3 separate regions of the Homo sapiens genome follow, and regions 1 and 3 are each linked to region 2. Evidence: fine-mapped expression QTL. A gene starts in region 2. Each other region holds a variant in brackets. All regions are shown on one strand. Distances are from middle to middle.

Region 1 (10,622 bases), 32 kb before region 2:
AAATTGGAAGTCCAGTATTGAAAAACTTCAAATATTCATCCCCTTTGCCCCAACATTTTCACTTCCCAGAATCTATCCAAACACTCTGCTGCTCACAGGATGAAGTCCAGGCATCTCAATATGGCGTACACCTTTCAGGTTGCATCTCCCATGTCTCTCCAGCTGATATTTGCCACTCCATCAGTGCAAAACTGCCTGTCCTTCCCTAGACATACATCCTGCACTTCCATGCCTTTGAGCATTTCCTGCTCATTTTCTTCTGCTTGGAAAGCCCTTCACCATCTTCTTGGCTTAGCTAACTTTGCTTACTGTTCTGGAATCAGCCACATTATCAGAGGCCCTGATTCCCATCCAGGTTTAGTTAGTTTACCTTCTCCATGTTTCCATAGTACCCAGTACATATTTTTTGTGGACAATTCACACAGTATGTACATCTATGTTTACATATTCATGCATCTGATTACATACCTGTCTCTACCATCTTGGTTTTTCTCTGTATTCCCTACACTGGTGGTTTTTAGCTGGGAGCAATTCTGCTCCCCCAGGGGAACATTTCCAGACAATGTCTCAAAACATTTTTGGTTGTTACAGTTGGAGGCAGGAGGCGCTACTGGTACCTATCGTGTAGAAGCCAGGATGCTGCTAAATATCCTGTAACACACAGAGGAGGCCCCCACAACAAAGAATTATCTAGCCCCAGATTTCAACAGTGACGAGGCTGCTATATTCTTCCTAGCTTCTGCCTAGCCTGGAACATAAACACATACATCAATTTAAAAAATCCAGAAAATTATGTAATGAACAAGCATAAAATGGACTTTCGAAGCCTAATTTCTTCTTCCATACAATGGGCATTATAATAGCCATGCCAGAAGGTTGCAGGGAGGATTAAAAGAGACAACATACGAACAGTGCCTAGTACAAAGCTAGTATTCCATCAGTATTAGTTCATCCCAACAATAAAGAGCGTAAGTTAAATCACAGACCCAGAATGTTTTGGTACTGAAATGAAAAAGACTTTTTAGTCAAAGCCCTTCATTTTCTAGCTGAGGAAGCCAATCTTTAGACTAATGACTTGCCTAAATCATTGGCCTCAGATCAGTGTTTCCAGTTTAATGGCAAACCACATTTTAAATGCATGCATAAGAGAAAAATTGTAAGCTGACTCCTTTGTAAAACAAATAATTATCTTTTTTTGGTTTGGCTTGTGAATACAATTGTCACAGATATGTATACAATTTTCTTAAAATATTTAGAATACTAACAGAACAATTATTCAACTGGATAATGTTACCAGAAGTTTTCAGGGGTTTATTTTAAAATTACATTTTTACATTTATGCAAAAATAGGCACATGTATTCAAACAAAAAGTTCAATAAATAATACACTCTTTCTTTGTAGGAGATATAATCAGAATCCAGAATGACAATTTAAATAGTTTATCATAAGCCTCTGGAATATTAACAGGCTTTCTGACATCTATGCTAAAAATTAACCACCGTATAATGATTCAGTTCTTCTTTCTTGCTCAATTGCTAATACAATAAAATTTCTTAGCAAAATATAACTTAGAGGCACTATCCGACCTGAGATCTCAGATTCTAACATGTTATGGCTTTTAATATGAACGCCAGTATAACCAGAATGTAAACAAATTATGGCATATAAATTAAAACATTTAAAATATTTTAACATCTATAGACTTTATTAGGTGTTCCTTATACAGTCATCTGGTATGTTTAAAGAGTGAGCAATCATATAAAAGGAAATATGGTCATAACTGATTGAAGTAATAAAATCCTGAAACTAAATAACATCTCATAATTCATTGCACAACATATATTAGATTTCATTACATCAGTATATAGCTTAGTAGTAAATTCTCCTGATGGCCATAAACCTCTAAGGTGTTGTCATCCTGAAAAATGAAGGAGGGGAGGGAGTTGGTGGGGCGCAGAATGGAGAAATCTTCCATAGTGCTCGTGTGATGTACACTAAGTTGTAAAGTTATAGGGCATCGCCACCTAGTGGCAGAATTTCATGCCTTGTTCTAATAAAGGGATTTTCCTTGTTTTCCAAAGAGCAACCTGTCTTACTCACTTTCTAACCATCCCTCTCTGATACTGTCCCTCCTAAAATCCATGCTTCCTCCCATACACCATAAACCCATCTGCTCTTCATCCATCAAGCTGTCAAGGATTTGGTTATGACAATCTTCATGTTCACCTAACTTTTTAATTCCAAGTAGTTTGGTTATTTTCAAAGCTACACACAGGATGCCCATATTTTTAAAACTCCATCCTATTTGTGAAGGATTATTACTTTGGGCTTTGGCCCAGTTTTTATTCTTACTGCTGAATCTTTTCATAAGTCAAAATTAGTGCAGAGTTAATGCTTGAAAAGGGAGTCCTTAAAGTAAATAACTAAATGAAATCACTACCAAAATGTACACTTTGGATTTATTAAGATTCTAGAATTTAAAAACAGGAAAAGGTGCCATTAGTAAAAACTCCATCACTAACATTTTGGTACCACTCGTAGAGCGTCACATAAATATTCAGACCATGATAACTCAGTGCAGGAATGTTATCAAATATTTCCATGCAATCTGGAACTAGGACCACAGCTGGCAATTGGGGGTCTGAAGGCCCGACATCCCTTACGCTGCTTCCTACATCTTGACAACAGGAAGGCCAAGTGATACTAGGTAGTGCACTACAACAGTGAACATAAGCCAGCCATCTGTTTTTTTGCAAAGTATAGTAAAACAAACAAACAGAACATAGACCACTTCAGAGTAAACAAACATAACTTTCTTCAAGATGTAGGAAAACTGTATATTCAAAACCAATCTCAAACTTTAAACAACAAAAGATATCAAACATTTTAAACTGTACAAAGCAAATTAGCAGGATTTGAATATTGGCAGTTTTAAAATGTCACCCATCCAAAACACAAAACAGGGAGATAGCCAAGTCTTAGCTCCATCCTAATCAAAGCTGTCATGCAGATCCAGTTCCACTCTTCTCATCTCCAGCAGGTACTTCACTCAAGGAGGTGACACCCAAGGGGAGTAGATGAACCAGAAACAAGAGTGCCACATAGAAGGAAGAGAGGAGACCTTGGACCTTAGCTACTGGTTAGCTATTCGACATTGATGATATTCAGCGTTTTCCCAAGTTATTCTTTCTCGCTTCTCAGCACATAATTTACATTATGCATACTATATGCCAGAAACTGTTAGTGCTTGACATGCAGTCAGTTAATTTTCACAACTGGGTGAAGTAGGTTTCTATCATTAGCTCTATCTTAGGGACAAACAAACTGAAGCACGGAGAGGTTAAATTGTATTCCTAAAGCACTACACAGTGAGCAAATAGATTCAGACCTGTGCAGTCTAACCCAGAATTAGCTCTGAATCACTCTACCATTCGGTCTACAGGACAATGTAGACCAGACTACAGGACAATGTAGATTTGGTCTACAGGACAATGCAGAGTGCCTGTGTTTCAGGCACTCTCATGGTGATTTTCCACACAGGACGGCTTTTGATAATAGAAAGGCCCTCTCTTTCAAATGAAAGGACTTCACTGATGGATTAACAAATTCTCACCCATTCACCTGTGTGAGCCAAATACTAGATCTACTTTCTTAGTCTTCATAACAAGCAGGACGATAACCATAATTTATAATGAACACAAAACATTGATCTAGTGTTCAAAGAACTTTTGCACACTTGTTCTCATTTAGAAGAATGAAGTAATCTGGAAACATAGAATAGGCATACACTTTGGCTTTAGGAAGAACTCTTACAAAATCAGAGGTTGCCTTATGTAATACCACACTTTACCTTGAGCAGGTGGATAGCCTGGGGGTTCCTGTTATACCTCAGTCTTGGTCAGTTCTATTTGTTCCCCTGTCCTTCAGCAGTGCCCTTAGGCTTGCTTTAAACATTAACAGCATTCATAAGCATGGTTTCTAGGGTCAGAGCCCAGCCTCCCTCCACCCACCCGGCTCCCTACACACCTTGACAGTGCTCTTTGAGATGCCTCAGTTGTAGTCTCCTTGTAATTGTGCACAGTAGACGTCTGAACGAATAGACCAGAGTCCTGCAAACGTGATCTTGAAATCACTATTAAAAGAGCCTTTGCAGAGATCTACTCAGGAAAATTTTCTGAATAGACAAATGCTTTTAAAGGGGGTTCTAGACAGCCCATCTTCTTGGCCTCCTTCTGCAAAGTAGGACTACATTAAAACCTTGTCACAATGTGACCTGAGCAAAACCATTATCAAGTGATCTAGTTGTCTTCAACCATACAAAAGAAAATTGACATGATTTCAGGATAGGTTTAGAAAAATAACGACCAGCGAAAGGAAAAAAAAAAGCGGGGGAGGGGGTTCCTAGAGAATTTAAGAGGCTAATATTTTAGCAAAAATTTAAAGATGCTCTTTATGATACACACATTTCTCATTGCTTTACAAACTTTAAATGTAACACAAATTCGTTTTTCACACTGTTTTGTTATTTGAGGTAAGGCATTCCTGCCACACACAGCAATGACTTGTCCTGGAAAACCAGGGAGGCTGCAGGTCCTACTGTTCCTTCTCTACTAGCTGTGGCTCCACACTCTCACCTCTACCAAAGAAAGCATTTCAGAATTTAGGAGTGGAAATGATGACAACATTGAATAATCCTAATTTTTTTTTTGAGACAGTCAATGTCGCTCAGGCTGAAGTGCAGTGGTGTGATCTAGGCTCACTGCAACCTCCACCTCCTGGGGTCAAGCAATTCTCCTCCCTCAGCCTCCCGAGTAGCTGGGATTACAGGTGCCTACCATCACGCCTAGCTAATTTTTTGTATTTTTAGTAGAGACAGGGTTTCACCATGTTGGCCAGGCTGGTCTCAAATTCCTGACTTCAGGTGACCCGCCCGCCTCGGCCTCCCAAAGTGCTGGGATTACAGGCATGAGCCACCATGCCTTGCCAATGATTCTAATTTATATTTTTAAAAATTACCCTATAATCTTAAAACTTTTAACTGACTAGTATCCAACCCTTAAACTTCATAACAATCATTTCCAAAGTGGAAAAGTCACTGGGATATGGGGACAGTATGATTTGTCTTTATACTTTTATTTTTCTAACATCTTTTTGTTTTCTAGTATACATGTTAGCACAGGAGTATGTATATTACTTAAGTATGCCTATGTTGGGGTGCAGACATAATTTCTTTTTAAATGATAGGATGCAAAATCAAATCTGTTTGCATACCAGTGAAGAGGCTATTTCTCAATCTTGGCAAACTAGGGGGTGCATACCCCCTTCTTTTATTCAGTAGCTTCCATAAGGATGTAACTTACGGAAGTTATATCCTTCCATAAACTGATAGGCTATCCAACCAGTGAGGAAAACTGATAAAGTGGCTTCTGAGCTCCAAGTAGCAGTTAAACACAACTAAATATATCTTGAAAGTTTGGAAAAAAATTTAACAGTAAAGGGATTCAGTAGTTATTCAGTATAAGGTTTGGAATTCAAAAACTCCAGCCATTACAATAGACATTTATTTAAAGTAAAACATCTTCAGACCAAATAATTCTTAAAATTGTTTGTTTCAAGTTTAACCATCTTCATAACAGCTGCATCCACAGACTTCAACTACATGATTACTTCTTTGCCCATTCTTCTCTTTCTTTTCTTTCCCGAATAACCTCTTTCAGATACGGTTCAAGGTAGAAATTTTCCTAAAGAATGAATGAAATATTATATGTTACCATCACGTACTGATATATCCCAAACACTCAACAGGTCTTCAATAACAAGAAAAAAGCAATTACTTTTGAATTTCCAATTTTAGAAAACATATTCTCAACCTAAGAACTATCTGCTTTTTAAAATGTCAAATCTGTGGTGATGGTGTGATAAGTTGCTTTGATAGGTTATGAGGGGGAAGTCTTTTCGGGAAGAAAAAGAAATGAATGTCCACAGGCCTTTGCCTAGTTTCAATGCAGTTCAAGGGGTGAGAGTTTGCTTCACAGAAGCTCTTCTTGGGATCTGGAGGGACACTCAATGGGCTGATCTTTTCATCTAAGTAGGAAGCAGAGTGCAGAGCTGGAACAGCAAAGACCTGGGAGGCAACAGACCTGGATTTTAGTCCTGGCTCTCTATATTA[G/C]AGACTTGCTTAGTAATTTCAGAAGAATCATTTCACACGTAAGACTCAATGTGGTTTTCTTCTAAAACGGAAATAACATTTGCTTTATTAACCTCACATATTTATTTGACATGACTCAGAGAACTCTAACACTATGCAAATGAACATGTTTCTCTTGTTTCTAAAACTCCATCCTTAATGAGCAACACTGTCAGGTAGATAAAGCTGTGCTACCTCTTCATATTTGGTCCACTGCTCTTTAGGCAAGATCTGATGCTTCAAGTTCAGGTCCAGTGCCCTCTTAATGCGAAACATCCTGTCATTATAAAGGTTCTCAGGAAGTCTTCTTATGGCTTCTTTTACATCTTCATCCTCGTATATTGTATCATCTCGCATTAACCCTATGATAGATGACAAAGTTAGATTGCACATGCATCTCAAAAATCGCGGTTTTTTTAAATTAGTAAAATACCTTTATGACTTATAACTTACAACTTTTGGTGAACTATCGAATTCAAATCACTAGGTTCAATGGAAATTCAATGCATTTCATACATTATAGGTTGGTGCAAAAGTAATTGCAGTTTTGCCATTAAAAGTAATGAGTTATTACTTGATATAATGGGTTACTTCTTGAACTAGACTATGGAAACAATATATGAGCCTCTTAAAATCCAATGCCACAAAATTCATATTTTATCTAAACCATTTACAAAATATTTTAAATGTTTACTTTGTTTTTAAACACACATTAATAAACCACATCTCTTTTTTCTCATAGTTTAAATCTGAGATCAAGGTATTAAAGAATCTTAAAATGATAGTATACTAAGGAACAGTGACTTTTGCTTACACTTTCTTCAAGCTTCAATAGTAAAAGATGAAGTTCATGGTAAATTACAAAGTTCTAAAAAAGCTTAGGAATCATATGATTGCATGGACGTGATAAAATTTTAATATTCAAAAACTCTCTACTTTCAATGTTTATATAATTTAAATTAAAATTTTAAGTGGAAGGCCGGGCGCAGTAGTGCACACCTATAATCCCAGCACTTTGGGAGGCCGAGGCAGGTGGATCACCTGAGGTCAGGAGTTTGCGACCAGCCTAATATGGTGAAACCCCGTCTCTACTACATACAAAAAAAATTAGCCAGGCGTGGTGGCACACGCCTGTAATCCCAGCTACTCAGGAGGCTGAGGCAGGAGAATCACTTGAACTCGGGAGGCGGAGGTTGCAGTGAACCGTGATTGCGCCACTGCACTCCAGCCTGGTGACAGAGCAAGACTCTGTCTCAAATAAATAAATAAATAAATAAATAAAATTTTAAGTGGAAGAGTTGGGAAAGGGGGTGTAGAAGGAAAATGTCTTACTACTTAAATCATTACCAAGTCGAACATTTTAGAGGCTTTCATCCCTCTTCTCTCAAAAAAACTTTAAAAAGGAACTGGATTTAACATAATGTGATTTAATTTTAAAATCTTCTGATGTATACAAGAACTGAAATGGTTTTTGGAACCACAGTAACACTTGCAAAAGCAATACTCTCAGAAAAACAAAAAAAAAAACAAAGAAACAACAACAACAACAAAAAACATTAAACAGCACAGCTGCTTACCCAGTTTATTGAATCCTGCAGCATTGTAATACCATTTTCGAATACCATCCAGCCACTTGCCTGATGCTGAAACTGATAATTGTCACACTGTTAATTGCTACAATTTAATTATACTATATGAACACATTGATAGGCAAGCAACCAGTACTCAGTTATCTTGCTGATGAATGCAAACATAGAAATAAATTTCCTTTTAAAAGTATATAGTATATACAGCAAGAATTTAATCAAAAGAATTAGATTTAAAAGAAAAAAGTTTATACTCTATAAAATGTTGATAAAAAGTGCTTATTTTATTTATGAGCAAAAGTGGTTGCAGGAAAATGGTGGCAAGTCATGAAAGAAAAGGGTAAACTCAAACACTGAATGTACAAAAGATCCATAGGTACATCGTGTGCCCTTATGCCTGCCCTGTTACCTTCAGAAATGAAGGGGTGGGAGATAGGAAAAGGACTTGGAAATTTCCATCATTTGTAGTTTCATAAATAGATCACAGGAAATAATTGTAAACTTTTCATTTCAAGAGAGCTGGAGTTGTAGGGAAAAGACAGTGAGATTTCAGCATAGACTGGCAGGTCTAAATGACCCTCATCCTCTAAAATTTTTACTCGATATTACAGTTATTTCATTTGGCCACATTCTTTAAAAATGTATGTATTTTGGGGAGGATTTTGATACCATTAGTCATTTAAACATTAATATGGATTCGTAAAAGAAGTCCATTTACCTCCTCCTAAGCAACTAAGTTCCCCCCAAGGGAATGGATATTGAAAAAGGATGAGAAATAGGTAATTTTAAAACTGTTTGGGGAACAGGGCTGAGCCTGATGAAGTAACCCAGCAGGGTCCAAGTACAGCAGGACCGTATCTGACATTTTAGGAGAGACATTTTACAAAAGGAGAGGTAGAACAGGTTTGTATTCTCTTTTAAAATTTTGTCTAGGGTTAGCCCTTACCAAGGAAGGAAAGCAAACTCTCCTTTCACTCAACTCTCCTTGCTTGCAAACTCAGTGCACTACAGATTACGTGGCTTTAGCAAATCTCCTTGGAAATTAAGAGTCATGTATAAAACTGCTGCTAGAAAAACAAGTATCAGTCAACAATCTACAAACATACTTGTGGAAGACAGATTATATTCAACCACCTATCAGTGACTATAATAATATTCACTAAGCACTTATTGTGCACCAAACACTTTCCTATTTGCTTTACCAACATTAGCTGATTTATTTACATGTCTGTTACTACAGAAGGGGAAGCTGGCTTACAGAAGTGATCCCACCCAAGGTCAGAGTTAGCTAATGGGAGTTGAGATCTGGTCTATGTAGTTCCCAAACACGCACAGAAGCAGTGTCTTGAATTTAGTAAGACTCCTTCAATATCTGCCAAATTAATAAAATAATTATTTAAAAAGTCTCCCCCACCCCCAAAAAGCTCAATGTCAATTAGGTTAACGGATGTTTCTGGCAACCTGATGTTTCCTAACAGCTTCACAATTGCTGGGGGCGGGGAGAAAAGGATCAACATTTTTTAAGCTACTCCAACTTGGTTGCATTGCAGTGAGACGAGATTGTGCCATTGCACTCCAGCCTGGGCGACAAAGCAAGACTCCGTCTCAAAGACAAAACAAACAAACAAACAAAACGGCTACTCCAACTTGTACCGCCAGAGGGCAGAGATTAGCAAAAAAAAAAAAAAAGAAAGAAAAAAGAAAAAAAGAACCTACAATAAATTCAAATTTCTCCAAACCTACTGATCAAGCTGACGCTCTAGATAATCCAAGGTCAACCTGAAGCGTCGCTCGTATCCCTTGCTCAACTGTCTCTGATTCGCAGTTTGAGAAGCGCGAGGGGTGCAATGATATTTCCAATTCTACTTCCTTGGGTCACTTTGCCTCAGTTATCTTATCAGCGTAAAAGGGAAATTAATATCTCCCTCGTCGCAATGGCAAGAAAATTTATAGGGCCAATGCACACGATAGAGCACTTGGGTCATAGAAAGCACTGAGCTCATTCGGGTTGAAAGTCATCCACTAGTTATCCTCTTGTGCCCTTTAACTTTTCTAAGGCCAAGGGGAAGGACTTCCAAGCACGGGCAGCTGGAACTCCAGGGCTGTCAGAGCCACCGCGGGCACCTTCACAAACAGCGGGTTAACATCCCAACCCTATACAGGCAAGCCCGCCCTGGGGACAGCAAACGAGTGGGGAAGCACATCCTTTTCACTGGACTGAAGCAGCCAATTTCCCTTCCGCGACAAACTTGGCCACTTACAAAGAAGAGAGAAAACGGAGCAAGCTGCAGCAAAAATAAACGGTGAAGCGCGACGATGCCGGCCAAGAAGACCCCCAGTTACTTACCGGCCTGCTTACCAGCCATTTTGACCAGAAAGAGAAGCGTTGCCTTCTGGGTAAGTCATAGAGGACAAGCTGGGCCCAGTCCGCAGGCGCGTTACGTCACATCGCGAACAGAGAAAGGCCGCTTGCGCAGGCGCAGTTCTGACGACTGCCGTTCAGCACCTGCGTAAGCACCTCTCGGCCAGGGTGAGGCCAATGGAGTAGGCGGGGCATTTTGCGTGCTACATTCTAAGAAGTATTGGTTGTGATGTGATGGGAAGAACACAGGTCAGGAATTAGGAGACCAAGGCTTAAAGCTGGGTTCTGTTATTTGCTGTTAATAGCTATGGGAGCGTGGACAGTATTAATTCAGCTCTTTGTGCCAGGCAGGAAGCTAAATGTTTTAAGGGCATCGTCTTACTTTCTATTGAAGGACTGATGGATGTGCCATCCCAAAAATATATGGAATTGGTACATTGATTATTTCGAGTTGAAAATATTGGAGAAATTGTAGTTTCAGAAAAG
Region 2 (10,622 bases):
GTGCTCTAATATGCACACTTAAAACTATTTCTGCAAAGACCAGCTCTTCCCTTGTTTGCTTCTTTCAGTGGTTAAATCTTGGGATCATTTTAGAATTAAACATCCAAGTCCCTAATTTTTCACCTTTTAAGAGGTAAGGTTACAACTATTTAGACAGACTAACTACTGTTCCTCTGAGATTAGAAATTTGTTGGTAAATTTCAAAGCACACAATGCCTTTCCTTCACTTAATCAGTAGGTGAGAATGCTAAAAATCACCTAACTTTCAAGTGAATTTTGAAACAGAGATTGAGTTTACCATAGCCTGTTAACTTGGCTAAAAGTACACATATGCCAACAGTCTGAATTGCATGGATTAAAGTAATCATATCCCGAAAGTCTTTGTTTTGACCCAATGCCCTCCCTTCCAAGTTACCCTCAAATACATCTTTAAAAGGGCTTCTATGATTGTTTCTACAACCTGCAGTCCTCTCTACAGGAGATGTGACTCTCTAGTACAGCCCTGATTCTGAAGTTGTTTTTGTTTTTTTAAAATCAAACGCAGCATGGAAGACACTTAGAACTACACATTACCTTAAGCTAAGGAATCAGGTCTGTGATCTTTTGTTCTGTTTTGTGCTTCTCATCATTAACTATCCTTTCTCATCATTTATAGCCAGCATCTCCTCCCTGCCCTCTCCCCAGCTCTCTTTCCTTCATATTCTACTTAACCTTATATCATTTCATTACCAGCGAAATATTCCTAGAATAGGACCCATAGGAAGGAGAGGATTGACTAAAAAGCGACCATGAGGGAACTCTGTGGAGTTAATATAATTGTTTTATTTGTTGATTGCAGTAGTTCTTACACACTAAATGCATATGTCAAAATTCATAGAACTATATATCCCACAAGATGAATTTTACTTGATATAATTATACCCTAATAAAACTAATTACCACTAGAAGAATTTTGTTTTAAGAATCTAAACAATAAAATATTTAAAAAGCAAATGTTTTATATGTGTAGCTATAAAATAATCTTACACGTTAGCCCACAAACTTTTTTTCTTACCAGTAAAATAAAGGCATGATAGAAGTTCATCAATAGAACTGGTATTATTCTTTTTCTTTCTTGGCACAAAATATTACCTGAAATGGGCTAGCAGAAGGTAAACAGGTAGCTTGTTCAAATGGCCAAAGTAGGGAAAGGGAGACTTTTCTGAAAGTTCAGAATTACCTTCTAGAAACAGCTCAGAATCAAAGCTGGATATATTTTGTGTCTTCTGTGACTGTTCATTCATGGAAGGAAGCAGACTGCTTTGGGCAGAATTATTCTCCTGACTACTTGAGCTAGTAGACTGGGAACTATTCCATAAGGAGGAAGTCCTGTAAGTCTTAAATCCCCACTGGAGAAAGCAATTGTCAGAGGATATCTGAGGCTGAGCAGAAAAGCCATGTAACAGTGTTCTTGCTGGTCTAGTAAAACGTTTTGTGAGTTGTGCAGCATTAATGAGGCTCCTCAACTTAACTGAGTTAAACCATCTGGGTATCTGTTGGGCTGACAAAGCCATTTTTCTTAGTCTACAAAGGAAAGATATAACCGTCAAAAGAAGAGAAATTTAATTTACTTAAATGTTTAAAACGGTATTCAAACAACAAAAAGATAAACTGGAAATTATTTTTTTCTAATTGAAAGGTGTTTAAATATATATTTAGTCTAAAATAGTGAGATGTTTCTTATGTACAGGAAAAGCCAACAACAAGGCAATCTCAGTTACAAACCAACAGACAGGAACTTCTGAGTGGAAAAATAAAGATATACTTTACAATTTAAAAACAAAATGCAATGACACTGGTGTAAGAAAAATGCTTAAAACAAAAATCTGCAAATGTTCAAGTGACAGCAGACCTCACTAATCTGTTAATTTAATCATTTAAAGAGAATAAGCTGATGCAAATAAGTGTTCTTGAAATTTGGTGTGAAGGGTGTTTCCGCAGCACATTGCTGATCAAAGTAACACTGAATTATTCAAATGCATTTTATGTATATAAATTTGTCCCAAAATGAAAAAACAGAAATCTACTGTGTCCTAAACAAATCATCAAAATATTATCATTGATATACAGAACAGTGAAAGCAGTTTCTTGCTTCATTCTCAGGGCTGAACACTGTTGATTACTTCACAGATAAAGCTGTTCTTCCAAAGGGAATTGAACAAAACCAGTTTTGTCAAGTTTTGTTTCACTGTAGGAAAGGAGAAAAAAGCCTTCAAAAAGAAAAGGTCAAAACTAGTAACAAAACCAAGTGACAGAAATAAATAAGCAACCAGCAATTAATACCTGTATATTTTGACTGAAAAAGTAGTTTTCAAAAATATTTTTATCAGGAAAGGCTAGTGCTATGTTAAACTCCAGGAATATGAAGGGATTTTATATTTAGCCAGCTAATTAGAAAGGTAAATTTGATGCATATAATCTTACGTTAAATAACATTATCCATATAAAACACAGGATGGAGTCAGGATATAAGAAATGCTCAATAAATGTTAGCCATTATTATTGGTTACACAACCAAATACAAAAATTCTGCTGAATTAATTGCTGCCTACAACTTTATACTTTGTTTTTCTGCATACTGGAATTCAGCTTGTTTTATGCTCTAAATTAGACCAAATACTTGAGGGTCTAATCTTTTCTTGGAGATCTGTAGTTTTGGGAAGTTTGCTGAAAGAGATTTTACAAAAGTGAAAGTTTCCTTTCATTCTGCAATTATTTATTATTATTATTATTATTATTTTTTTTGAGACGGAGTTTCGCCCTTGTTGCCCAGGCTGGAGTACAACGGCACCATCTTGGCTCACTGCAACCTCTGCCTCCCAGGTTCAAGTGATTCTCCTGCCTCAGCCTCCCGAGTAGCTGGGATTACCCACGCCCGCTACTATGCCCGGCTAATTTTTTGTGTTTTTAGTAGAGACGGGGTTTCACCATCTTGGCCAGGCTGGCCTCGAACTCCTTACCTCAGGTGATCCACCCAGCTTCCCAAAGTGCTGGGATTACAGGCGTGAGCCACTGCGCTCGGCCCATTCTGCGATGATTTTAGAAAAGAAGTAAGTATTCACAATACCCTGCTGGGATAGGTGGTTTCTGTTAGATTTTGGTGGGAAATGGGACTCCAAATGTGCCAAGTTTTCCCTCAAACCTACAACATTCATTCTCTGCACGGTAGTCATAAGGGCACTAAATTGAAAGTCAGAAGACCTCGGTTGTGCTACCTTGACAAGGCTGTTTCTGGCAGCAGTCTAACAAAAGCAGCAGTCTAGCCCATGATGTGGGGGGTGGGGGTGGGGTCAATAACTATTCTTCAAATAATGCTTTTTTAAAAGGCTAGGGGTACAATAAGATGATTCTTAAGGCCCCTATCAGCTCTAACATTTTTTGACGTCTAAGCACTTCATCCTACTTCAAACTCCTGAAATCCCAAATTCATCCTGAAGCCTTTCCACACTCAATACCACTTAAACATCAGGAAGACTCACTTTCAAATTTCACCCCGTCATTAAAAGATCTTTGTGCATACAACTAATGTTTATCCTTGCATTTTTATTTACAAGTGCACTATCTTCTCCACATCCTTTCATTGCTGCCTACACATCTTAACAATTGATTAACTGTTCATGCACGAGAGCAGAGCTGGGTCTCATCCCTGGATCCATCCTTCCGGGGACTATTCTCCACTTTCCCAGAGCCTTGTACTGCTCTAATGTTTGCGGAATGGAAATAAATCAATGGCAAGTACAGTTAACTCACTTGCTTACACAGTATGCAAAAGCGGGTAGGGGATGTGCAGATGTGTATAAAAGCCCTGTAAGGTGGTAACCTGAAGTCTTCTAACAAGGTCCTTTCATCAGGAAAATTACAGAAAACCCTTAAAGAAACTGAAGTCTCTTAACAATTCATATATACTGTTCTCAATGAGTGCCTAGTGCTTCGCTAGAAAAAGGCACTGAAATAGAGTTCAAGATTTCTACCTACGAAATGCTATAAATGAAATCAGGAGAGAAAGGGAGGTTATGGGGGCAGCTTCCTAATAAAGGGTCTCTCAATACTTCCCAGGCCATTTTAGCCCACTTCAGTTCCCCAAACTTGCGCAGGAAGGCAGAGCCCCCTCCTGAGGCTTCTCACACTGCGCTAATTAGCCAGCATGGTTGAGTTTTCACTACATCAGCCAGGGAAAAACACAAAACAAAACCAATCACCCTCTACTGGGCCGCGAAAACCTAAAGGCCCTTGAGGCCCTGGGGCGCGGTCTGGACGCGGGTGCGCCGGAACCTGAACCCTCGCCAGGAGCGCGATCCTCGTGCTGGGGCAGCTCCTGCTTTACCTGTGGCGAGGCCTGCTTCCCGTAGCGGGTGACCCCGGGACCGACCAACTCGCTGGGCCGCACGTCCCGTCCCGCCGCGCCGCACGCCGGCTCCTCAGCCCGCCCTACACAGCGCAGCCGCGCTCCCGGGCCCACGTGGGCCGCGCCCGGAGTGGGCGAGACCATGTGCCGGGTTACGCGGGGAGACAGCGGGCTACGTGCTCTGAAAAGAGCCAGCCAGGGGCCCCGGCTACCCTTCTCCGGCTCGCTATTCCTCTGAAGTCCTGTGGACTTGGAGTCTGAAAATTCCTCGAGTGGTAGAGATGCCTCAGCTAGGATGACAGCGTGGGGACGGCCGGCGGCGTCCCCTGCCCCAGGCCGCGGTGGCGGCGCCGCGACCCCGCCCTCTCGCGCCTGTCCTTCCCTCTGCTCCCAGCCTTTGCTGGGCGCCAGACCCGGCTTTGCCGTCCGGCTATTAGCCTACTGTGGCTAGTCACCCCCGGGGTCCCGGCCTTCTCGGGCTGGGGCCGCCGCCACCGCGGCAGGACGGGGAGGCGGGCCATGGCGTCCTGCGTGGGGAGCCGGACCCTAAGCAAGGATGATGTGAACTACAAAATGCATTTCCGGATGATCAACGAGCAGCAAGTGGAGGACATCACCATTGACTTCTTCTACCGGCCGCATACCATCACCCTGCTCAGCTTCACCATCGTCAGCCTCATGTACTTCGCCTTTACCAGGTGGGGCGGCCCAGCCGAGCGGGGGGCGCGTCCAAGGGCTAGGGAAGAGGCGGGAGGGAGGGTGGCGGGGAGGGGGGCCCGGCATGGCTCTGGGTGAGGAAGTGGGCTGGCTGCTCCACGCACACGCACTGGCAGCCCGCCGCCCACGCGGCCCCTCCGCCCGCCCGGTGTCTCACAGTACGCTAGCCTGCTCCCCTACCCCTCAGTGCCCCTTCTCCATACAGCGCCTCCGGTTACACGGGGAACGCACGCGAGTCACCTAGCACGATCGCCCCCTCACCCACCGCACTCAGCATCGCTCCACACAACATCACGACGCGGGCCCCTCCTCTGCACTGCTCCAGCCTTCGTCCCTACCCAGCACACCGCATGAATCATGTCGTATGCACCACTTTCAGCACACACCGCTACACATACAAAGCACCCCAATCCACAGCGCCTGCAGGCACCATACACAGGCCCAGGACACAACCTAGATCCCTTCCTGTGGAACTCCGGTATTCGGCACTATCCGTAACGCACAAAAAATGCACATGTGTGCTGCATACACGGTCTTTCCTGTGCAGCACTTCCCGTATGCATTGCACACAAGTCATCCAGCATAACACTTCCCCCAGCCTCAAACACTACCATCTGTACCACGGCACAAACTGCCACTCTAAACACACACCTCACAGCGGACCTTTCCTTTCCAGCACAGCCCAATACCCATCATCTGTGTACATGGCTGCACAGACACCAGCCCGCCACACATCACGCGGTGCATACCCTGCTCACTCATTACCTAACATACGTGCTGAAATGTGATCTTGTCCAGCAATTTTAATGGTGCCTGGGGTATAGTAACTGCTGTGTGTTAAATGAAACACATAAACCTCACACAGCATAACACAACTCTCTTATTCCCTGGAAAACATACACACACATTCTAATATATACCGGTTCATAGGAGCTGCCCAGCCCAAATCTTGAACACACCTCATGTTAACTCTGGCACTGCGCCTGTGGCTCCTCATTCCTAACCTAGAGAACTAATTCATCCTTGGTTCATAAGGAGGTACACACCGTGGTTCCTACTTAGAATGATTTATACTTTCTGAATGAACCTCTTTAAAGAAAGGGAAGTCACACCTCTCTCACCATTATGGCTTAAAAGGCCAACTTAGAGTAGAGTAGTTTTTGAGCCACACTTTTGGTTTCAAAACTGGCTGTGTGTCCTTAATTAAGTTGCATAACCTTGCTCTGAGCCTCAGGGGCCACACTCGTAAAATGGGGATGAAATATCTACTTATATAGGGTTATGAAAATTAAATGAATGTGTGTGAATGCATTTAGCAGAGTCCCTGGAGCACAATGTACAATTCATGTCAGTTACTTCTCTCCCAGTATTTTTATCCAACAATCAAGGTTCTCTGTCAGGGTCAGCAGAACATGTGTAGGGATATATATATTGGGTAGTCACAAGGATTGAGAGAACTTCTAGTATTTGGGAGGGGGAGCAGTTAACGGATACTAAATGTATTGTGACATATGTGACAGCGCTGTACAACATAAAGGGAATTGTCTTCTACACAGTCGTTTGCATACACACACACAAGTGCCGGTGGTGCCTCCCTTAGGAATAACTGCAGTTTTTCAAATCCTCATAAAACTAATATCCTCCCACATCACACTTGTTCCTTACCTCTGGGATTCATTTGACTCTTGGTTCTTGTTATGTAAGTGTTTATCCATTTGAAAGAATCTACCTAAAGGTATAAAGCTTAAGTAACAATTGCTTACTCTTTAATGATTGAGGGATCTTGCCACTATTACTATAAAATCTGCTAAAGCTGTGCAGCAGGTGAAGACCAGACCTTTCCACAGTACCTGACCAGACATATTTCTAGCTTTGGAGAGAAATGAATCATGTCCCTAACTATGGTTACTTTCAAATACTTCATTATGTTGCCTGATTTTATCACTTAATAGCTGTGTGGCCACATAATTTTGCTAGGCCTCAGTTTCCTTATCTGTATGTAAAATGAAAATATCAATACATTAATCTGTCGGGATTATTTGTCATGAGGATTAAATTCATCTTTTTAGATAATCTGTTTAGCTCAGTGCATGGCAAGTATTAAGTGCTTAATAAACATTAGTGGTTATTACGATGTGATTTCATTGAATGCTACTGTCTTCTAATTTATATTTATTATTGAACGAGGATGTAGTATGCTCTGTAATTGAGAAGGATAAAAGCACTGGAAAAATGGACATTAGATAACATACATACCTGTTTGATGTTAACTTCAGTTTAACTTCATCTTAGGTGTGGGCTTGAAATAATGAAATTAGTGAGGGAGTTTCTCTGGAAATTAGAAAAATAATTATGGTATTTTGTTTTAAATAATGAGAAGCAAGAATGAGCCATTTGTTTCAGCCTTTCATTTTTAATATTATTCTAGGTCCTTTCAAAATAGGTTTCTCTTCCTCTTTTCTGATATAAAAAGTCACAATCTTCTGAAATTTCCTTTTACATCATATTCTGTCAAGGCAGTCAATAAATTGCAGCAGTGAAAGTATAAGAAATGAATACGAATTTTAACAGCTTGTCCAAAATAATAGAAGAACCATAATCTGAACTTCAGACTGTAGTCTCATCCAAAAATGTTAACAATTTTATTTCTTCCACTAATTTCATAAAGAGACAGAAATCACATAATGAAGAACTAATTAATAACAAGTTTCACTTTATATAAAATCATAAGCACCATTAATAGAATTCGTACTTACTAAATCTTACTCATTTTTTGTAATGATTTGTGACTTAAGTGGGGCATTACAATGATAGCTCTATATTCCTCCATAAAGACGGAAAGTAACGACTTCTTAAATGAAAATGTATCCTATGTTCTTTTGTAATGATTAACTCCAGTGCCTTATTATTTATTTTATAAGATTTTAGTTGGACAATTGTTCAGTGCAATTCTTTCAGTAAAACTTAAAAGATATGTCTTAAAGTTTGTTTTGCAAAGACTAGTTGTCTAAGAGAACGAGGAGATAGGATTCTTTTGGGATGTCATATAACCAGTATGTGAGAAACAGTACTTGGGTACTGTCACATGCTTCAGAGATCCAGCAAGAATTTAAAATTACAGAGGATTAGATACCTTGCACTGAAGTCTGAGACAAGTTTGGATTTGTCAAGTAGTTCTTTTGTTAGATGGCCCTTAGGTCAATTCCCTGTTAAACCATAGTATTTAAATATCTCCTGTCTTTATCACCATCATTAAAAATAAAGTTAGATACTACCTAATCATTTTCCTATTTGAAAAAGCTCATTTCCAGCCTGGACAACATGGTGTAACCCTATCTCTACAAACAAACAAAACAAAACAAAACAAAACAAAACAAAACAAAAATTAGCTGGGCGTGGTGGCATGCACCTGGAGGCTGAAGTAAGACGATCACCTGAGCCTAGGAGGCAGAGGTTGCAGTGAGCTGAATCACGCCACCATACTCCAGCCTCCACCCTACTCACTCGACAGAATGAGACCCTGTCTCAAAAGAAAACCAAAAACTTATTTTCCCACATTTTAGAATAAGTAGGCTGGGTGCAATGGCTTACGCCGGTAATCCTAGCACTTTGGGAAGCCAAGGTGGGAGGATTGCTTGAGGCCAAGAGTCCAAGACCAACCTGGCTAACATAGCAAGACCCCATCTCTATTAAAAAATAAATAGTATTTTTATAAATAAATGCTTACGCATATGTCTTAGAAGTTTGTTAGCAAAGTAGGGCAAGGAAAACTTTTGTCTCAAGCTCAGAGTATAATAATTACCTATAAGATACCCTCATATTTACTCTGCATTCAGGGGTTGGTAAACTTGGAAATATTGAATGCCTTTAGTTTAAAAAACTCAAGCTTTAGATTTAGAAAACACCAGAATCTATTAATTCACATTCAAAGAAGCCCACCTCTCCTTAAGAGGCACCTGCCATTAAACAGTAGAATCAGCCTTTGTTAGCACTTGTCCAACAAAAATTGTTACTTACCTAGAAGACGTTGCCTTTCTGCGGATTTGTGTACTTAAGTGATCATCAATTTGTCTATGCTTCATTTCTCCTCGATTTAGAACTAAGGAGACAGGCAAGGACAGGGAAATGGACAGACTGATTGATTGACTGATTGATTTGTTAATAATGGTTTTTACTTAATTTCCCTTATTGGCTTTGGAACTCCAGTTCACCGTCATATCATTGGGGCATACTTGTGGCCACCTGTATTATATTGCTTATGGATACTTGCTAGCATTCCCTGTTCTTTCCCTCTTGACCACATAAATTCCCATTAGAAAATGTCCCCTGATACTGCTGATTCAGTTGTCTTTATCCTGTTTCCTTTATATACATCATGTTCCTTCTCTCCCAGCAACAAAAGCCCTGCATGCCCTTGTTGGCTGACACTAGCAATGTTAAATGCTCATCTATAGTGATTATGGGCTAGGATTAAACCAGCCCTGGAGGTGAACATTGTGTTAGGTTGCACCTGAGGTCCAGTTATCAATGATTGTTAACATTTCTTTTCCCTGGTTACCATTTGAATCAAATTTTTTATTGAACTTAATGTTTTACATTTTTTCTTATACTGATTTCCAGAGTTTTATGTCCATAATACGATTTCTAATTTGTTAAAGGGGGAAATGTGCCATATATTTCTCTGGGGTCTACTGCAGTGAATGGGCACTTGGGTGACTTAAATATTTATTTGGCTTAGATGATGCCTCAGCCCACAGAGATTATATACCTAGGAACTGCTGCCTTTCAGACTCCTCTTTAGTAAGCAACCTTAATTCAAGTTCATCTGTTCTGAATAAACTGTGTTTAGCATTTTAGATGTAGTTCTATTACCAGATGTAACACAATTTATCTTGTGACATAATTCCTATTGCCCCAGATTTCTGTAGAGAAGTTACAGTTTTTCAGTCTTAACTAATCCCAGAACGAGGACTAGTCCGGTCAGCCTGCACTGCTTCCTCAGCCCTGGCATCCCATTTAATTCAATTAATTCAATTCAACAGTTCATAGTCCTCATTGCCTCTAGCCCAGGTTTCTCCCAACCTGGAGTTCACCATCTCATTTATCTTCAGCAGGTCTGATTGGGCCTTTATAGCTTTCGGGACTGTTCTCTTTCCGTTCCCAAGCCTTTGCTCAGCAAACTCCCAACCCTTTGGGATAGCTGACTCTCAGGCCCTGGCTTCCCCTCCCTCCAGTGCTGCCCCTGTGATCTTTTTAGACAAAATCATGGTCCCATCTTTCCCTGTTTAAAATTCTCGTTTATCTAATAAATACTTTAAAACATATCACCTTTCTCCTGCTTTACTTGATAACTTAGCTGTAATTCTTCACAAGGATTGTGACTTTCCATAAAACGAAATTAGTATGGTATGAAAGATAACACCAAAGCTGGTTGACATCGGTATTTCAGTAGATGCCTGTCACCTATAGGAAAGTACTAGCTGGACTCCAGCGTCCTTTGTAATGGAGTAAGTCTACTTTC
Region 3 (10,622 bases), 71 kb after region 2:
CTGGCTCTCATCCCACGTAGTTTCTTCTCGCCCCCCCGCCCTTTCTTTAAACGAAGTGTGCAATTGCTATTTTAAATCTGAGCCTTGACATTTTCAGTGGGTACGTGCCTAGATTTCCACAGGTGTGATTGCAAACCTGTAAATTACCGGCTTCCGTTTGCTGGGACAAGTGTAAAATGGGCCTCTTTGTACGCAGGTGAAGTAGATTTGGCAATCACAACAGACCCTTTGTGTGACGATTGTGATGATAAGCACCTGTCGTTCTCCACTTGCCTGCTGTTTGCCGCTGGAGGGAGCGGCAGCTGCCACTGCCTGTCATATTGGGCCTGGGGCTGGGGAAGGGAAGAGCCCCGCGTGCCTGCCCTCTGGTGGTCAGAGTTTGCAATGACAGTCTAGTTGAGGGACCCGCCTCCCCACAGCCCTCTCGTTTGGGGAGGTGGAACCTAACCCCCCCAGTCCGCTGTGTGAAACCCAGAATGTTCTGTTTTGCTCTTTGTAAGGGGCCTAACGCATACACAGGCTTACACTCTGCAAATCATTTCTAGTCCTTCCCACTCTTTCCATGCCATGAAAATGGCACACTTAACGTTGGTATATCTAAGAAATCTGGGCAAGCATTAGAGTATGTTAAAGGTTGGAAGTCATTTTCACTTTGTAGTTTTAATGTATTCATTCGTGGCCTAATTTTTTGATGGATATGAGCTTTTTAATAAATCCCTAACCTGTAGGTATATGCCAGTTTGCACGTGGGTTTAGTAGGAAATGAACCAGTGGCGCTGCTTGTGCTTCTCACTCTCTCTCCACGCTGCCACTGTTCCTGCTTCCACGTAACTGGCACGGAAGAGGACAGCTAGCCAGAGTGTTGCTCTCCTTTCTTTTTTGGAACTAAGAAGGCACTGTGTATCCAGCAGCTGCCAGGAAATGTCGCTGATAAAGGAACTGGGCCAAAGCTCGACTGCAAGCTGCCATGATGAGAATTCACAGCCCCTGCCTTCCCGCCCTACCACCAGACTGTGGCTGTGCAGAGGAGAAGCTGCTGCTGTTCACTGTTCCCATGATGCTTTTCGTTCTCAGGGATGGATACATGGATGGAGAAATAAAGCTATATAGACATAAAGCCAATATTTGTATCAGTAGCCATCCCTTAAACCCAGATCCGGGGGTTTCAAGAGATCTGAGTTCCGGCTCCAATGTTCACCTCTCTGAGCTTTCATTCTTCTTCTGGAAAATGAGGGGCAATGAAATTAATGGTCTCTGAGGTGACCTTTTGGATCTAAAGTTATGATTCTTAGAACTAAAATTATTTCCTTGAGAAGGTCCCTCCATGCTCTCACAGCTGTCCCCACAGTTGGTGCAAGATGAGAGGGGTCCAGGAAAATGACAGGTGCCCAGGTGTCCACAGGAAATGCAGGGGGAGAGATGGAGGCTCAACAGCCAGGATGGCTTGATGTGAATGGGTTTCTAGAGTGAGGAATTTGGAAGGAGCTGGCAGTTGCCTTGTTTTGTTCTGGTTGCTTTGCTTGCAGTGGGGAAGGTGTGGCCGGGGAGATTCATGGCCCTGCTCTACCGCTCACCCTCCCTCCCTCCTGCCTTTGGTATGCAGTCCAGGCAGCTGGAGACTTTTCCTAAGCTTTGATTTTTTGACATGTTTTGAAACTTTGGATTCTTGTCTGTGCTTTTCTTTCCTTAAATTAGGGTATAATTTAGGGTGTGGGGGCAGGCCCAGTGAGTGGGGCAAGTGTGGAGTAGAGGTTGTCCCTGCCTCTGGGCACCCACAGGCCACACCCTCCTCATTCCACTCAGGGCCTTAAGAGCATCTTTATTTTCTCTTTGTTTTCCTATCCATATAACCAAGAAAAACAAAGCAATAAAAACTGGGGTCCACTCAAAAGCCTGGAAAAGCAAGGGCAGCCCTGTCCAGCTAAGCTCCCCACCCTCTACCCTGGGAGTGTTTGTCCGTGGGCCCTCAGGTGCCGCTGTGACCTCTTCCCCCTAGAAGCTGACACACTGAGTCCTCTTAGCGCTCTCCTGTGATGGGGAAGCCGGGAGAGAATGGACCCTGAAAATCAGAACTAGAACATAGAATCCTCTCTATCTTCTTCAACAGAACCCGCAAAGCTATCAAGAAAATGCATCCCACCATATTGCACATCTGAAAATTGTCTTTCTTGCTTTCTGATAGTAGAGTCACAGGTAGTAACTGTGGTCTCATCATAACCTTTGTTGTCAGAAGCTTTGGGTGTGCACCCTCCCCTTGAGGTCTGATCTCTGCCACGTCCAGCCGTTTTGTAACCGGCGTCCAGACGGCAGAAATGCATTGAACGGTCCTGCATTGATTCCCACTGAAACCCTGAAGTTCTGGGAAATTGAACTTTTTTGTGCAGCATCATTTGTTTTTCTCTTCCAGGCTTTCACCACTTTCCTCTGTCTGTACGGCATGATTTGGTATGCAGAACACTATGGTCACCGAGAAAAGGTATGGAAGGAGAGGCAGGCATGGCCATTGTTTAAAATAATCACCCCGGGCTCGGCAAATTCGCTCAGAGCACGTGCCTGTAAGGATATGGCGAGGTAAACACTGAGGTTGGGGCCTCCAGTCCTGCCACTGCAGAAACCGCATGTCACAACTCATTCCCTAGCCATTGCTGGCCCTGCTTGTGACGGCTCTGTTCAGTAGACCAATATTTTTGTCTAACTTTTGTTAGATAAAAAAAGTTATGTTTGTTTGGAGAAAAAAAGAAAAGTGATGGGAAAGCTGTGGACTGGCTTTTGGAAGCTGGGTTTTCTCCCCAGCTCTTGAACTGTGTGGAGGCCTCTTCCTGTGTTCCGGCCTGTGGCTCTTCTGGGCAAACGCTTGCCCTGACCTTCATTTAGTAGATATGAGGATACCATAGAAAATAGACATGAATGGCTTTAAGACACGATGGCCGTCTGGTAGACGGTAATATTTTTTTCGGTAAAAATAACACTTTCATCCTTTATTTACACCTTCAGTCTAAAGAACTTAAGGCATGTTGTGGAAGATTGATTCTGCATCACCTGTGAGAGGAAAGAACCTTGTTTTTATAGCAGAGAAATATAAGCACAGGGAGGTTCTGTCACTTGCCAGTGATGATCCCAGCCTGGGAGAGGCAGGGATGCAGCATGCTCGCCTTTTTGCCCTGCCACTTCTCCCAGGGAGTTCCTAAAATTCCTGCACTAAGCCTGTCTCTCTCCCTAGACCTACTCGGAGTGTGAAGATGGCACCTACAGTCCAGAGATCTCCTGGCATCACAGGAAAGGGACAAAAGGTATCTTGTTCTTGTTCGTTGTTTAAAATTTTACTGGGTCCTTGAGATGTGGAATTATTACCTATTCTTTGAGTGGAGATGATATAAGCCTTGAAGGGTCTCAGGCCTACCCATTGAATGTCTCCTGTCACTTATTAAGAAACATGCAATGGCTGGGCACGGTGGCTCACGCCTGTAATCCTAACACTTTGGGAGGCTGAGGTGGGCAGATCACTTGAGATCAGGAGTTCGAGACCAGCCTGGCCAACATGGTGACACCCCCGTCTCTACAAAAAATACAGAAATTAGCCAGGTGTGGTGGCGGGCGCCTGTAGTCCCAGCTACTCAGGACGCTGAGCCAGGAGAATCGCATGAACCTGGAAGGCGGAGGTTGCCATGAGCCAAGATCGTACCACTGCACTCCAGCCTGGGCAGCAGAGTAAGACTCTGTCTCAAAACCACGGCACTCCAGTCTCGGCAGCAGAGTAAGACTCTGTCTCAAAAAAAAAAAAAGAAAAGAAAAGAAAAAGAAACATGCAAAATGCTCACAGGATCTGAGTGAAAGACTTGGTTTGTAAGAAGAGGCTCCATGTAGCTCTGCCCTTCGTGAGGGCCCCACACCATTTCAAGCACCCTGATGGGAACGTTCTTCCTCTTGGCTTCCATCATGAGTGAACAGGAAGAACTGTATATCCGGCCAGGCACAGTGGCTCACGCCTGTAACCCCAGCGCTTTGGGATGCCATGGCAGGATCATTTGAGGCCAGGTATTTGAGACCAGCATGGGCAACAGAGCAAGACCCTGTCTCTACAAAAATCTTAAAAAATTAGCCAGATGTGGTGGCACATGCCTGTAGTTACAGCTAGTCAGGAGTCAGAGATAGGAGGGTCACTTGAGCCCAGGATCACTCCCATGTGGAAGACAGAACAAGTCCCTGCCTCTTAAAAAAAAAAAAAAAAAAAAAAAAAAAAAAGGTACTGTGTATCAGGAGGAAAAGCCTTTCAAAAGAGGGGGATCATTTTAATGGCATTTATTCAAGAGGCAGGGCAGTGTAAGAGATTTTGGTCGTGTAGTTAGGGAACCTCCACTGGCCTCTAAGGATCACTTTGGGAATATTTGGGGCCACCTGGTTATTTCAAAGAATTAGACTTGTAGAATAATGACATTGAGGTGATTTCATTGGACAGTAATTCCTCGTCAATCCTTATAAGCTACTTGGGAAGCTTGGCTGAAGAAAGAAAATTAGAAATACTAAAGACTGAATTTTAGCTCACAAAATTGCTCAGAGAAACGGTGGGCCAATGGAGAAGAAAGCGCCCTGTTGCAGTCATTCTCCTAAGTTCTTTTGGCATCAGGCTCATTAAAGATCTCCCAGGGGAGACACTAACATACACTCTGCTGAGCTGCTGGCCGCCCTTTTGGGGAAAGTTTCTCCTGAACCACGGAATTGATCAGTGAGCGGCCCGTTGTGAAATCTGATAGAGATGGACAGAGGGGCTCCCCAGCTATCTTATTTAGAACCATGCCCTTACAAACAACCTTGGCACTTACAGGTTCTCCACTGAAGAGAATTAAGCAGTAGTAGAGATGTATTTACTTGATGGAATAATAAAAAAAGAAAAATAACAAAAACAGAAGTCTTCTGAGTGGGGAAAGAATCTCTTAGTCTAAGTCAAATGCTCCTTACAGTGGAGACTGTAACTCTGGTAACTTTTTTTTTGTTGGCAGCCTCAGGTGGAGATTTCCTATGGGGCTGGATCAGAGCCCTGGGGCAGAGAACCCTTTGGCTTGGCCGCTAGGCCAGGCAGGGGCTGAACAAAGGCTCAGCTGGAGGGCAGAGGCTGCCCAGTGCCCTCCATCGTGGGCAGCAGGGGCCTGAATTGTAAAGATGTTCTCCAGATCAAATGTAGAGGGTGTGAAATAGCTCTGATTTTATAGTGTCAAGAGTCTTTCCTGATGTCGGGTTTAGAAGGTGGTGTGGAGCAGGTGAAGGGATGGAAACCCTTGGTTGCAGGGCAGGATGGGCACCGCGTGGTGTGTGTTTTAATTGCCCCTCGTTTGGGCTTCCGTTTCACTTGTGCTCTCACTTCTGGTCCTCACCATCATGACCATGTCCATCATACACAGGACAGATGTACACACGCTTCAGGAACCACCCAGACTTTGGGGCGCTATTGCGTTGAACCCCGCGCCACCGCGTGTGCTCCTTCAGTACTAGTTCTGTGTTTGAGAGCCTCGCCTTCATTTATGAATGAGGCCACTAGGGGGAGTGCACGTATCAGGGAAGAACCTGTTCCCCGGCAAGCCTAGGGCGGTCTGGAAAGGGACAGTCACCAATCTCCAGAGCCCAGGGTGACGGTGTGCTCTGATTCCTTTGGCCAGGTTCTGAAGACAGCCCACCCAAGCATGCAGGCAACAACGAAAGCCATTCTTCCAGGAGAAGGAATCGGCATTCCAAGTCAAAAGTCACCAATGGCGTTGGAAAGAAATGAAAAACCCTGGTTAATCAAAGATGTTCCAGAGTGCCTAGAACTGAGAGGGAAATGGAACTCATTTGGAACTCCCCGTGAGGAGGTCGAGGCGCACAGGGCAAGCAGGAAGAGGCGAGGGCACTTGGGGGTCATTATTTGAGATCGTAAGTCTTGTTTCCCACAGACCTGGCCGCGTCAGGCAGATCATCGCCTGGGGGGCCTTTGCCAACGTGGGGTCTCTTCTAACTTCAGCACTTGACATGCGGTCACCGGTGGCAGCGCGGTGTGTTGAAGGGAAACGGTAGCTATTCATTCACAGTTGCCAAGAGCAGCTCCGCGCCTGCTGGATCGTGGATGCAGCGTAAACATCTTCCTTCAGACGAGGCATTAACCCCATGGTTAATGGACTGGTCACCAGTTTTTATTTTATTTTTATGAATCTACCTTTCCATTGATTGATTTAAGTTCAGGCCACTTTTCTGTCTTTTATTTGGTTACTGTTGTTATTTGTTTTTAAGTTAGGATGCTTTTTAACAGCCTTTAGAAGCCGCTGCTGAAATTGATACTGGGGGAAGGGTTCCCCTTCCTTCTAGAGCAGAAAAGGGAGAGAGGTGTTGTATTCCTGTTTGGTAACCTCAGTCTCCTGTAAGACCTCCTACCACATGGCGAGTATACACCAATCAGGAGAGGGTAGCTGCCTGCATAGGAGCCTCGCTTCCGATTATTCCCTTCCCAATATTATTCATCCAGACTTAGCCACAGTGCACAAAAGCAAACCTGCTAGAGAGGCAGTGAACACCACAGCTTCTCCCCAGCTAGGTGCCTTTTACATCGGGTTTGTTCTCCTTCCATGGTGTGTTGCTGACATTGTCACTGAGTCCCATGTGAGGTGCTGGTGAGTATTACCTTTCATCTGTGCCATGCTCTAGAACCTTGACCTTGATAGTTCACCAC[C/G]TCTGATGGATCCCTGTTTTAAATAAAAACGATTCACTTTAAAGCCTATCAAAGGTCTGTCTGTAAAATGCTCATTTTCTTGCATCTTACTGGTATCTTCTATTGATTGTAAGCAGTCTGTGTTTTTCAAGTGACTTTAGGATAATATATATGTGTTTTACATAGTGAGAAGAAAAAAGAAAAGATGTGTATTTTAAAGGGCTTACAGACATATATGTCCTACTTCTTAGACTACCCAAGTGACCAACAGGAATGAACAACATAGTCATTGTTTTTTCCTGTGGTAATGGTTTCCAAGTTGGACTTTTTTTTCCTCTAACAAGAGGCCAGTACCCAGTTGATTAGCTTACAGATATCAACTCACTGAAAGTAATCTTTTGTTCCCTCATTTCACACAGCACAAAGGTTCGTTCTGATGTTTCTTCTTCTTTAAGGAAATCTTTAGCCATAGAAGTGTCACTTTTTTTTTTTCTGCAAAAGAATTCCAAGATGAACGGGTTGAATGAATCATGCCAGCCAGGGTCACATCCTGTCCTCAGGGGGCCCAGTGCTCAATAGTAGATTCTGCGGGAGTGGAGAAGCGTCAGTGGCAGCTCCGCTCACTTGGTGAGTGAGGGATTTGGCTGTGATGAGCCTCAGCTCCGAGCTCTCAAATGTCCTCCAGCCAGCATCTGCCTGCTTCCCACAAAAGGATAGAAGAGAGGCAAAGTGCGTGTTTCATAAAACCTGCCTGCACTTTTATAACCCATCAAAGAGGCCATTTTTAAACACAGGTACAATTTAAACATGATCTTTCTTTGCAAATAAATATGTTTTGTTTCATCCTGTGTTCTGCTTTTCTAAGCATGACATACTTGTGCCCATTGGAGAAGACACCTGTCTCTTCTTTCTCACACCGGTGGTGCCTCACTGAGTGTTTCCGGGTTCATTTTCCGGGAGCACTGGGCCTGACACTTTCACACTCTTCTGACTTTCGCCTTGTTGCAACTGATGGAGCATGTGTGCTTCCTCTGAGGCCAGCCTACAGGAGGCAGCTGTTTCGCAGGTGGTGAATTCGACTTTACTGTGGCATTGTGAAGAGCAGGGTGCACAGGAGATGATTTTTTCTCCATGGCTTTGTAAGAAACAGCCAGGAAAGTTCTCAGATACTTTCCATGCCCTTTCTTTGAGTTGAAACTTTCTATTTCCCTTCAGTCAGAGCTCTTTACTATAGTAGTTACAAAACCAGTGCTTTCCATGGCTGGCCAGAACCACAGCTGCTATTCCTTTTAGAAGCCATACTGCTGGGTTTGGCCTACTTTTTTCACCGTTTCTATGGAAATAAACCTCACATTGATGGAAATAGAATGCGTGTTTCAGAATCATCATTCAATATCTGAAATGATTTGATTGTAAATTATCTCATGGTCCCTGTTTGCAAACCACCCTCTTAAGAGAGAACATTGTTTTGGACCTAAAGCTTGAAGAACGGTTTATGTATTTTTCTCCTTAAGTAGCATTGCATTGAGTGTTAGGTTCTTTTCCCTTTTTTTCATTCTTGGTCTTCCCAAAGCTTCTTCCCACATTTCGTTTGTGTCTGTTTCCACCATTCATAGAAACCTTGGAACCACTCTCACAGCAATGCTAGGATGTTTCATGGACCTGTTAAGCATTTTGATGATACAAGACATCCTATCAATGCCAGTCTTATTTTCGCTAGGACTCTGCTTCCACAGTAAGCTCCTAAGGTGCTCACCCAACCCAGGAGAAAACAAAATTCATTACCAAATACAACAGGTTCAGCCTTCTTGGTCTTCCCTCAGAAGCCACCGTGTAGCACCCTGGAATGATGCCTCTTTATGCCAAGGCCCACCCTTTGGAATTGGGAGGGTTTTGGGTAGAATCCTGCACTTACAGAGGCCCTTGGGGTCATTGAGAAGTGGAGGAGGTTGGACACAGAAGGGGAGGCTAAACACAAGGTGGGGAAGAAAAAATGTAACCATTGGCAGCCAGACTGAAGCTAGCCCTTTAAAATACGGGGTTGGGGGGTTAACATCCGCTCTTTGGAATGTGCTCAGTGACTGCTGCAGAGTTCCTGGGCCACCCTAATGTTTACCAGGTGGGCGTTGTTTATATGGTTCTTATTGTTATGACAACTAGAAATCCCACAGTAGACTAGACAGTGCTCCCTACCATTTCCCATTTATAGGATTGAAATCAAGATGTAAGGAGAGCTGGCCGGGCGCAGGGCTCACGCCTGTAATCCCAGCACTTTGGGAGGCTGAGGTGGGTGGATCGCCTGAGGTCAGGAGTTTGAGACCAGCCTGACCAATATGGTGAAACCCTGTCTCTGCTGAAAATACTTAAATTAGCCGGGCATGGTGGCAGGCACCTGTAGTCCCAGCTACTCGGGAGACAGAGACAGAAGAAATGCTTGAACCCAGGAGGTGGAGGTTCCAGTGAGCCGAGATCACGCCACCGCACTCTCTAACCTGGGCGACAGAGCGAGACTATCTCAAAAAAAAAAAAAAAAAAAAAAAAAAACTGTAAGGCGAGCTAAGACGTCTGTCTATCAGTGTTCCATTACATAATACACCTCTTTCCTTCACATGTGTGTGCACATTCTCAGGATTATATTAGAGATTTGATTCTTTGCAAGGGTCAGTATCAGTAATGGCTGAGACTGGTGGGCTGCAGTCATGTTGCTATGCCGTAAGAGGTTTTTACAACATTTCCCCTTATCACACTTTATTCTAACCTGATGATGGGCCTATCTCAGGTGAAGATTGCAATAGTTTCCTTAATTGAACTTTGGTATTTGATGCATTAAATAAATATGGCTTTTTAATTTTGCTATCTTCTGTGAATTTAAAGGAATTATTTCATTGATGTCTACCAAAGAAGATAAAAAAACAGTTGGATGTGAAATTTTTTTAGGTTGTGGGAATGCTACGTTGTAAAAATCTTCCTTTTCTTCCATGTTCACTAAAAAATGCCTTTAGTCCATTTCAGAAAGTTCATCTGTGACTTGGTCTACTCTGATATTCCCTTTCTTGCAGCTTGTTAGGTGGAATTTTGAAGTTGCTTGTCCTGCAAAGAGATATTTGTTGTCACAGTCTAACAGTGTTCAAGGGTTTGCAACATGTCCAAGTACCTCCAAGGCCTCACAGGGCTAAGCTGAATTTATCCCTCATGATACTCTGATACTCATAATACTCTGGTTGAAGCCTGGTCTCTACCTCCATATTCAGTACACCCAGCTGGGGAGGCGGGTGACAGCAAGCTTCCTGCCTGCATTTCTAGCAAAAGGGACTCCTAAGCCCCAGCATTGTTGTCCTCTTGGAGCAGAGAGAAGGGTGTTGGCAGATCCCTTCCCCTCTCGTAACCCCAGTGAGGACAGTAACATCATTCAGAACATAGAATTTACCCAAGGGTTTTGCTTTCACAGCTGATGCAACCAACCACCCAGCCTCTTTAAGTGATCTGGGCTCACGCTCGTACTTGTGCCTGGGAGTTAATTGCTGGTTTTTCTTTGTTACTGGAATGCTCAAGACATCACCCTGGCCAGGGTCTGCAAACTGTGGGCACCGACAGTGCCCTGCGGTGGCAGGAAGATTTGCTCAGAGCTGTGACCTCCTGCCCCTCGGAGCAGTCATCCCAGGGCGTCAGAGCCTGGTGTTCCATTGTAGGGTGTGGCCCCTTTCTGGATGCTGAGTAAAGGAGACTCTTGTGGTTTTACAAACCACAGGAAATGAAGTTTGTCTGCCTTTAAAAGAAAATTGGTTTTCTAACATTTGAGACTAAAAAAACCAAAATATTTCATTATCGTGTCTGAAGTATACACACAATAGCTTTCATTACAGAGTCAAATTGCAGGCAAGGTTTATGTAACAATCCATACTGGAAATCCGGGCTGTAAGCCTGACTGTTCCCACCCGCCCGACAAAGG

Evidence for each region.
Region 1: its variant is fine-mapped to the expression of PTDSS1 in whole blood (TOPMed, PIP above 0.99).
Region 3: its variant is fine-mapped to the expression of PTDSS1 in whole blood (TOPMed, PIP 0.98).

What each region holds. Positions count from the first base shown.
Region 1 is chr8:96,225,391-96,236,012 of GRCh38, forward strand. UQCRB (ubiquinol-cytochrome c reductase binding protein) reads right to left here and starts at 10,155. Exons shown (of 4, transcript NM_006294.5): 1 at 10,122-10,155; 2 at 7,766-7,837; 3 at 6,384-6,550; 4 at 1-5,742. The coding sequence starts at 10,140. The coding sequence ends at 5,665. UQCRB-AS1 (UQCRB antisense RNA 1) reads left to right here and starts at 9,903. Exons shown (of 2, transcript NR_183275.1): 1 at 9,903-10,171. RefSeq lists an enhancer at 9,882-10,161. The variant G/C (reference allele first, on the strand shown) is at 6,171.
Region 2 is chr8:96,257,138-96,267,759 of GRCh38, forward strand. It overlaps PTDSS1 (phosphatidylserine synthase 1), which reads left to right and starts at 4,765. Exons shown (of 13, transcript NM_014754.3): 1 at 4,765-5,082. The coding sequence starts at 4,904. MTERF3 (mitochondrial transcription termination factor 3) reads right to left here and starts at 4,473. Exons shown (of 8, transcript NM_015942.5): 1 at 4,364-4,473; 2 at 1,220-1,563. The coding sequence starts at 1,553. LOC105375652 (a long non-coding RNA gene) reads right to left here. Exons shown (of 3, transcript XR_928431.3): 2 at 9,119-9,200; 3 at 7,669-7,755. RefSeq lists enhancers at 3,226-3,919, 4,071-4,130, 4,613-5,305, 5,451-5,690 and silencers at 4,294-4,618, 4,371-4,520, 4,701-5,070, 5,121-5,300.
Region 3 is chr8:96,327,806-96,338,427 of GRCh38, forward strand. It overlaps PTDSS1 (phosphatidylserine synthase 1), which reads left to right. Exons shown (of 13, transcript NM_014754.3): 11 at 2,408-2,476; 12 at 3,221-3,290; 13 at 5,652-9,190. The coding sequence ends at 5,761. Among named protein-coding and RNA genes, the nearest start is that of PTDSS1, 71 kb to the left of the region's middle. RefSeq lists enhancers at 1-11, 12-547. The variant C/G (reference allele first, on the strand shown) is at 6,695.